Homo sapiens: one gene and its partner. The protein of the gene in region 1 interacts with the protein of each later gene in a biochemical or structural test. Each region holds a gene or a part of one and is shown on either strand. Other genes may lie near its edges.

Region 1 (3,821 bases):
TGACATTTAGCCTAATTTTTTCCTATTTATTTTATTAGAGACAGGATCTCACTGTGTCACTCAGGCTAGAGTGCAGTGGTGCAATCACGGCTCATGGTAGCCTCAACCTCCTGGGCTCAAGGGATCCTCCCGCCTCAGCCTCTTAAGTAGCTGGGACCACAGGCATGAGCCATTATGCCCAGCCCTTTTTTTAAAAAAAAGTTATTTCTCTGTAGAAGCAACTAGAATTATTTTTCCTTGGGCACAAATATTCAGACTGTGGTGGTAAAATGCAGACAAACAGAAGCTTGTGTGAGGCACACACCCTCATTCTGCACTCCACAAACACTAAGAACCCCAAAATGTCCTGTCAAGACAGAACTCAAGGAGTGGACAGCAGAACAAGGCTCCAGGAGGGAATTTACCATGAAGCTAATAAGCCCCACACTTTCACGGGCCCATTCCAAGGCCTTGTACCTGATTGGGTATTCATGATTGCGTATTACTTTTCTTAAAAAAGAGCCCTGGAATTGTACAGACTTCAAGCACTGCCAAACTTGATCCATCCCTGCAGCCTTGTTTCCTTAGCAGCCATTTGAGCTCTAGCTCTTGGCAGCATTAGCTCAGAAATCAGAGACAGAGAGCCACCCCTGCTCACTGCACCCTGCCCCCCTCCACATCCCCCAACACAACCCCTTCCATGCATCATGCTCAACAAACCAATCTCAATCTCTCTCTCTCTCTTTCTGTTCCCTCCTGTCCCCAACACCCAAATACTAAAGTTCCTCCAAAAGGAATATCTATACACCATCAAATCCATTCTGAGACACAGACAGGGTCTTCAAGAGAGTTTGCTGACTTGGAGAACATCTCACAAATATAATCTGTTAACAAGGTGCCCTGGGATCGAGCTCTGGAATGCTGGGGCAGAGTCTACAGGCCTCCCAGGTGGGCTTATGTCTGGCAGATTCAAGGGTCAGATTCAAGTGTGATTCCTAAGGCCCCTGGGCTGTCTGTGCACACTTGAGCAGTGCAGATGCCAGTGCCCTCTGCACACACTATCCCCACCTCTGCATCCACAGCATACATCTCACATTCCAGTGATGGCTCTTACCAGTGATGTCATATCGGCTCTTGGGGTCACTGCTCTTGGGCACAGTGACCTCAGCTACCTCCTGTCCTGTCATGGGGCCATATCGCAGCTTGTAGTAGTCCACCTCAGTTGAGGGGTTTTCCCACTCCACGTCAAGGGAGTTCTCAGTCTCATCTGTCACCCAGGCAGTGCCAAGCACAGCAAGGTCTAGGGCAGGGGTGACGGAGGCAAGAGAAAGTGGTGAAGAGCAGAGGTTCCAAGGTTCTGTGACAGGCTGTTGGTTATCAGGTCAGCTCCCTTTCTTGACATCTCAAGAGCTGGCTTCAGCCCCAGGACACAGTTCTTAGCAGGTGTCTTTGAGCTACCAAAGTAGCAACTAAGCTGCTGGTTTTCACATATTCCATGGGCAGACTGTCTTTTGGGAAAGCCTCCACTTCCCCATCCCATCAGAGGCCATGTGGTCTTCCCTGTCCACACTGACTTTGGCCAAGCCCAAACTGTACCTCTCAGGTTGGCCACCCAAACCACTCAGTCCAGAGCTCTGACAGCTACAGCCCTGAACTAAAGGCCCACTCTTCAGCTGCAGAGCCCCTGCCCTCTAAGACGACCTCAGGATAAGCAGCTCAGGCACTTCCACGGAAAGTGGAGAGAATCTATTTCAAACTTTCTCAAGGACAACATTGGTAATCCAACAAGCTCCTTCCTCCATCTCCCAAATTGCAGCCCTTGCCTCTCAAATTCTCCTCTAAGGATGAACCCTAGGCAAAACTATAAAGTAGGTGAATTTTAACTTGGTCCATCTGAGTGTACTTCCTGCTATTTTTACCAATTTTAGCACTTCCATCTGGTACCTGGTATTCTCATGCTGCCCAATCTGTCTGTCCTGTGAAGGAAGAGAGTTATTGTATACATTTATTCATAGTAAAGTATTAACGGCTAAATGTTTACTCTTCTACTCAGAAAAAAAAAAAAACATGAAGTTACAGTGATTAATACAAAGGAATGGATCATTGCTACAGCTCTAAGGGGAGAACTTTTCTAGGGATGGGAGGACTAGGGTCTTTGAGAAGCACTTCAAATTCCAACAGCCATATCCCAGGCTGAGGGAGCCTGGCCTTCTAAGTTTTTGACAGGAAAGCCAAGGCCCTCCAATTCTCAGGCTTCCCCTCTTCATCAGTCACGCCCCCACCTTCACCTCCCTGGAGGTGTCTCCACCCAGGCCTACTGACCACTGACGGATGATGAAGGATCGAGAATTAGTGTCAGGCCAGGTGTGAACTCAGTGATCTCAAGGTCCCTGGGCTCTGAACGTCCCCGATTCAATCAGTTATGGATAAAGAGCCTCACAGAGCCTTTTCTCTGAAGCTTTTCCTCTCACCCACTGGCTTCCATCTGCCAGGTGCTGTTTTTAGACTCCCATTAAAGATGGAATTCCCTGAAGGCCAGGTCAAGAGGTGAGTAATAAATGTGACTTGAGGCTTATATAAGAGTTCCTACATGGTGTAAAAGAATTGGGAGGGAATCACAAATGAAAAAGCAAGGACTTAATGAGAATGTTCACGATTATGGTGGGGATGAGTACCTCTTGTCTTAGGCTCCCCTGAGGAGCAAATAAGAATGTGTTTAACCTGAATCAGATTAGAAAGAAAGAGAAACTTCACACTTGCAGAATTTTACAAATCCCGAGAGCAAGATGGATGAGGGGTTGCTAGGACTTTCAGAATAGGCATCTCTGTGCTGCACTGGGAGGCTTTGGACACAGTGCTAGCTGTACCAGAGGCAGCCACAGACAAAATGGGGAAAAAGAGAAAAGCAGACTCTGCCAGCCAGAATGGGCCTGGCTCCCACAGTGAGGACTTGGTGTCTCCTATTGAACATAAACCATTTCACAGGACATCAATGTCAGGTCACTCTGTGACCGCATAGATCAAGACAAAAACAAGACACTTCCATGATCAACTCTGAACACAGACAAAAACATGACCATTGTCCAAACCACACAAATAGCTGAACACCCACTCTCCTGACTACTATGAGTGATGGCCACTTCTGTTACAATCACCAACTTCAGCCTCTCAGAGGGGAGAGGCTCTCCCCACTTCTTGACAGCACCCAATCCCTGCTTCCTTACACCTTCCCCCAAATTACCTAACACAGGCCCAGATTCTCTAACCAGTCCTTTCTAACGCTGTCTTACTGAGATACCTCTATGGTCCCCCATAGTGTGCAGTCACCCATGCTAGAACAATCAAGACACCCAAGTTGTTCAACTACAGGGGTGCTCCTGGGGGTCTTTAGCTTGAGGGCACTGACAAAGGTAATCACATATGGTGACCTCATGATGGCCAAGTCTCTCACAGCCCTTTCCAACACTGACCCATCCCCACCTCCACCCTAGTCCCACCACCATAAAGGACAGGCAGCTTGATGTCTCTGCAAAGACAACTGCATGCCAAAGTTCCATCCATCTGTATCTTCCTAGATCTTTCCCTAGAAGTTTAGGGCAGGATGGAGGCAGTGCATTTTTAGCACCGAGAACAGTGCCTGACAAATGGTAAGTGCTCAATAAAAATGTACTGTGTGAAGGAATGAGTTAGTCATTCAACCAACTACGTTTCTCCAAATCCTTGAAGATCTAAGCTGCTTTAAGAATGTTCACGAGGAGACAAGAATGTTTAAAGAGTAAGCAGTGATGCTAATCCTTCTAAACATTTTGGTGGCATTTGCTGGTGCACAGGAGATTCTGTTT
Region 2 (3,821 bases), on another chromosome or scaffold:
AAGGCTGACATTGGCCTCCTTCCTATCAGTTCCCTCTCCCAGATGGAAATTCTAGAAATGGCAGGTGAGGTGGACAAGCAGGGAAAGAAATTATATGCATAGAACAGAAGGAGAAGAAAGAGTAAAGTCAGGCCTCAGCCAGCCTCTTTTTAGCTCTTTAAATCCTCTGGATTTAAGAGGGATAAAGGGTGGAATAAGGATAAATTAATGCCAATTGTAATGCCTTAAATTTGTGTGATACCTTACAACTTGAAACATATTCACAAAACTATATATTTGAATATCTCATTAGCTGAGTAAGGTAGCAAATCATAATTAACTTTTTCCATTTTATTGATGGGAAAGCTGAAGTTCAATGAAGTAAATTTTTCAATAGCCCACAGAGTAGGAAAGTGACAAAACCTGAGCCTGGGCCTCCAGGTCACTCAAGGACACTTTCTTTCTTCCACACCCAATTGCTTCATGCTTAAAGTTGGCAAAACAGGAAGTGAAACTCCTGCAGTTTTCTGTGTGGTTGACACTAGCAAGGGTTTCTCAGTTGAAGCCATGAATCATTAAGCCAATACATATGCATATATGTTATACATACCAAATGATTTATTTATAACCCTATCTTTCCATAAAGGACTTGAAGGAGCTTCAAACAAAGGATATGTGAACAATAGGGTTAATCAATAATAAGTAGAAAATCTGGACATAGAATAAAAAGAGGAGAGAAAGACACCGAGAATGAGCGTTAATACAGTGCTTTCCATTTTTCTGGTGTTTTGAGTAGCGTGGCTTTTGGAGAAAGCCAAAACTCAAATTCACTCCTTATCAACTGTGTGCCTTGGGCTCCATTTCTCTGAGAGTCTACTTAGCTCCAATGTAAAATAAGAATAGAACTATGACTTTGTAAGGTTGCTCTAAGGATTGAAAATCATGTATTATGTTCAATACGGGGACACTGTCCTTATGGGTGAGTACTCCCCTAAGACTTTATTAAGAGGGCACTAGGAGAAGCACTGGGAGGTCTTCTCAGTAACAACACTAAAGTAATTGCTATTTTTCCAGCCTGTGGAACCACAGAAGTGACTGTAACTAAAATTAGACATTTCTTTCTGATTCATTCTCTACTCACGGGATTGTCAGACCCCAGTCTTCTTCTGGACTCTATAAACTTTTTAGAAATCATCAGCAGGCTCCTGGAGAAGCTTAAATGAACTCACACAATATGTGACAGTGAACTCCCTGGGAGAGTGAAAACCAAAGTCTAAGCCAGTGTCTCCATTTACTTGTGTGATTGTGGGCAAGTCATTCAAGTGCTTTGAGGCTCAGGTCTTAATTCATGAAATGGAGGTAATAATACCTTGTTGGCAGACCTCACTTGGTTAAAATGATAATGTTGATAGTTACAATAGTTACATTTAATTGATCAATTGTTTTATGCAAGGGCTTTATTTGTGCTATCTCAGTTTGTCACATCAATGAATTAGAAAGATACGAAAGTATTTCCAATTTACAAATGAGGAGTCTGAGTCTGGGAGTCATTCTGTCATGTGTCCACTGTCACCTGCTCATTGGTGGCAGCACTGAGATTAGGATCTAAGTCCACTTCACCGCAGAAGCAGGGCTTCTAAATACTGTTCTATGGCAAGAGCACCCTGCTCTCACAAAATGCATAAAACTTCCTATCTCACCATTATAATTTTGACTGATATTAAACAAAGAGAAGTATTATTATTATTACTTGTTTTTATTTATATTACAGCTGTAAGAGCCAGGAAAAATGTGATCTAAGTTATGTGATCAAAGATTTTTTAACAGTGAACAAATCAGGCCCACTAGATGATGGCCTTTCTTTGAACAACATGCCTAGGGTTGCTCTATCATGTCTACAGTTGGTCTGACTTCCTGACGGGCATCACAGACTTGTGATTAAACACAGAGGTTATGGGGGAAGTTCCAAAAGCTTAGGACTTTCCAGATGGTTGGAATAAGATCACACACTCTGGCTGCCCTTATGGAGATCACCGAACTTTTCAACTCAAAGTAAAATCTGTGGAGTAAATGGTCGATCAAAAGGAACCAACTATATTGAGCACCATGCGTGATCATCTGATCGTTACTGCTACCTTGTGAGTTAAAGGCTACTCTTCTCATTTTAGAAATGAGAAAAGAGATGCCCAGAGAGGACGAGTAACTTGCCTTAGGTCACACAGCTTATATTAATCACAATAACATTTGCCGCACCTTCTGTATTTTTTTTAAGTTGCTAAGCTTTTGGTGCATGTCTGGCACCGTTTTAGTTGTATATTATTTCATTTAATTGTTAAAATGACCTTCTGATGCAGGTATTTGTAGCTTTGCCATTCCACAGATGAAGAAACAGATGAAAGGACTGAATTGTTCAATAGGAAGGAGCAGAATCAGGATATGAACTTGGGTTGGCCTGATTCTTGGGGCTGCATTCTTTCCATAACATAATTGCTTGCTGTGATGTCCTGGGCTACTCTGCCAGGGGTGGTTAGTGGAGTGAATGGAGAATAATTTAGACAAGGTCAGTAACTCCCATGCCATCTAGAAATTAAAAGTTTAAAAGGCAGAGTCTGCAACTCTCCTTGATTTCTACAGAAATAAAGATGATCCCTCCTGTGACAGTGCTAAGTGACAATTCTGAGTGTAAATGCGCTTTTTGGCACAAATTGTCCTGTCCTAATAGTCTTGATTATAATTATAAAATAATGGGTTTCTGAAAGGCTGCAAGCAGTTCTGGGAATGGCAATAAAGGTTTAGAAATGACGTGATGTTTATGAGAGAAGTGTTTTGTTGAAAATTAAACTCACGTTTAGGAGAAAGGATTGTGTTGTATGCTCCTAGGAAACTATCTCACTATGTAATTAAATCAAAACCAGCCAGTTACCAATTTGAGCTCTTGACTCATACTAACAACACCCCATTTCCCATGGGCCAAGCAAGGCAGGACTGACCTGAAATAACCCAGCCTGACTCTATCCACAGCCACCCCAGGACCTTGCCCCTCCGTCTTCCTAGGGCTCGGCCGTGAGATGCTAGTGCATGACCCTTCCTCTTCCTGGGACTGTCCTTGTCTTTCCCTTTGGACTCTGGGAGGTCTGTTCTCCTCCTCAGAAAGGAATAAACACTCTTTCTATTTGTGGGATTCCCTAGGAGACACTATATAAAAATATAGAGTTAAAAAAACTATTTAAAAAAAAGACAACTTCATGTCTCTACTCTGACTTCATTCTTTTTAAGATGGGTAACAAAGACTCTCTTCAAGGTTAGAAAATTTTATTTTAATTTTTATAGATTTAGAGAGTGCAAATGCAGTTTTGTTACATGAATATATTGCATAATGGTTTAGTCTGGGCTGTTAGCGTAACCATCAACTGAACAGTGTACTTTGTACCTATTAGGTACTTTCTCATCCCTTAACCCCTTCCCACCTTTCTGAGTCCTCAATGTCTGTTATTTCATTCTCCATGTCCATGTCTACAAATTATTTAGTTTCCACTCATAAGTGAGAGCATGGATGGAACTGGAGAAGAGTATTTTCTATCCCAAGATCGGTTCCTTGATCTTGTGTCTCCAAATCACTTGCTCTCTCTCTTACATCTTTTCTATCTTCTTCTAGCCTCTTTTTGCAAACTTCATTTTGACAAAGAATTCCAGGCAGTCTACAGCTGATTTTATTTCAATACAACGATTAAAATGGAAACCATATATGAAGATGACAAAGTTGAGCAGGTCCCAAACTCTCACTTTTAAACAAATGCTTGGCTTAAGAATCACTTAATGACTTTCATTCTGCTATCTATGTG

Evidence for each region.
Region 2: the proteins of TNN (region 1) and TLR4 form a complex in vitro, tested with the Homo sapiens proteins (one study listed by IntAct).

What each region holds. Positions count from the first base shown.
Region 1 is NC_000001.11:175,081,208-175,085,028, reverse strand, and holds part of TNN (tenascin-N precursor), read right to left. Parts: intron 1,280-3,821; coding exon 1,094-1,279; intron 1-1,093. UniProt on the Homo sapiens protein: Extracellular matrix protein that seems to be a ligand for ITGA8:ITGB1, ITGAV:ITGB1 and ITGA4:ITGB1. Involved in neurite outgrowth and cell migration in hippocampal explants.
Region 2 is NC_000009.12:117,717,794-117,721,614, forward strand, and holds part of TLR4 (toll-like receptor 4 isoform A precursor), read left to right. Parts: 3' UTR 1-3,821.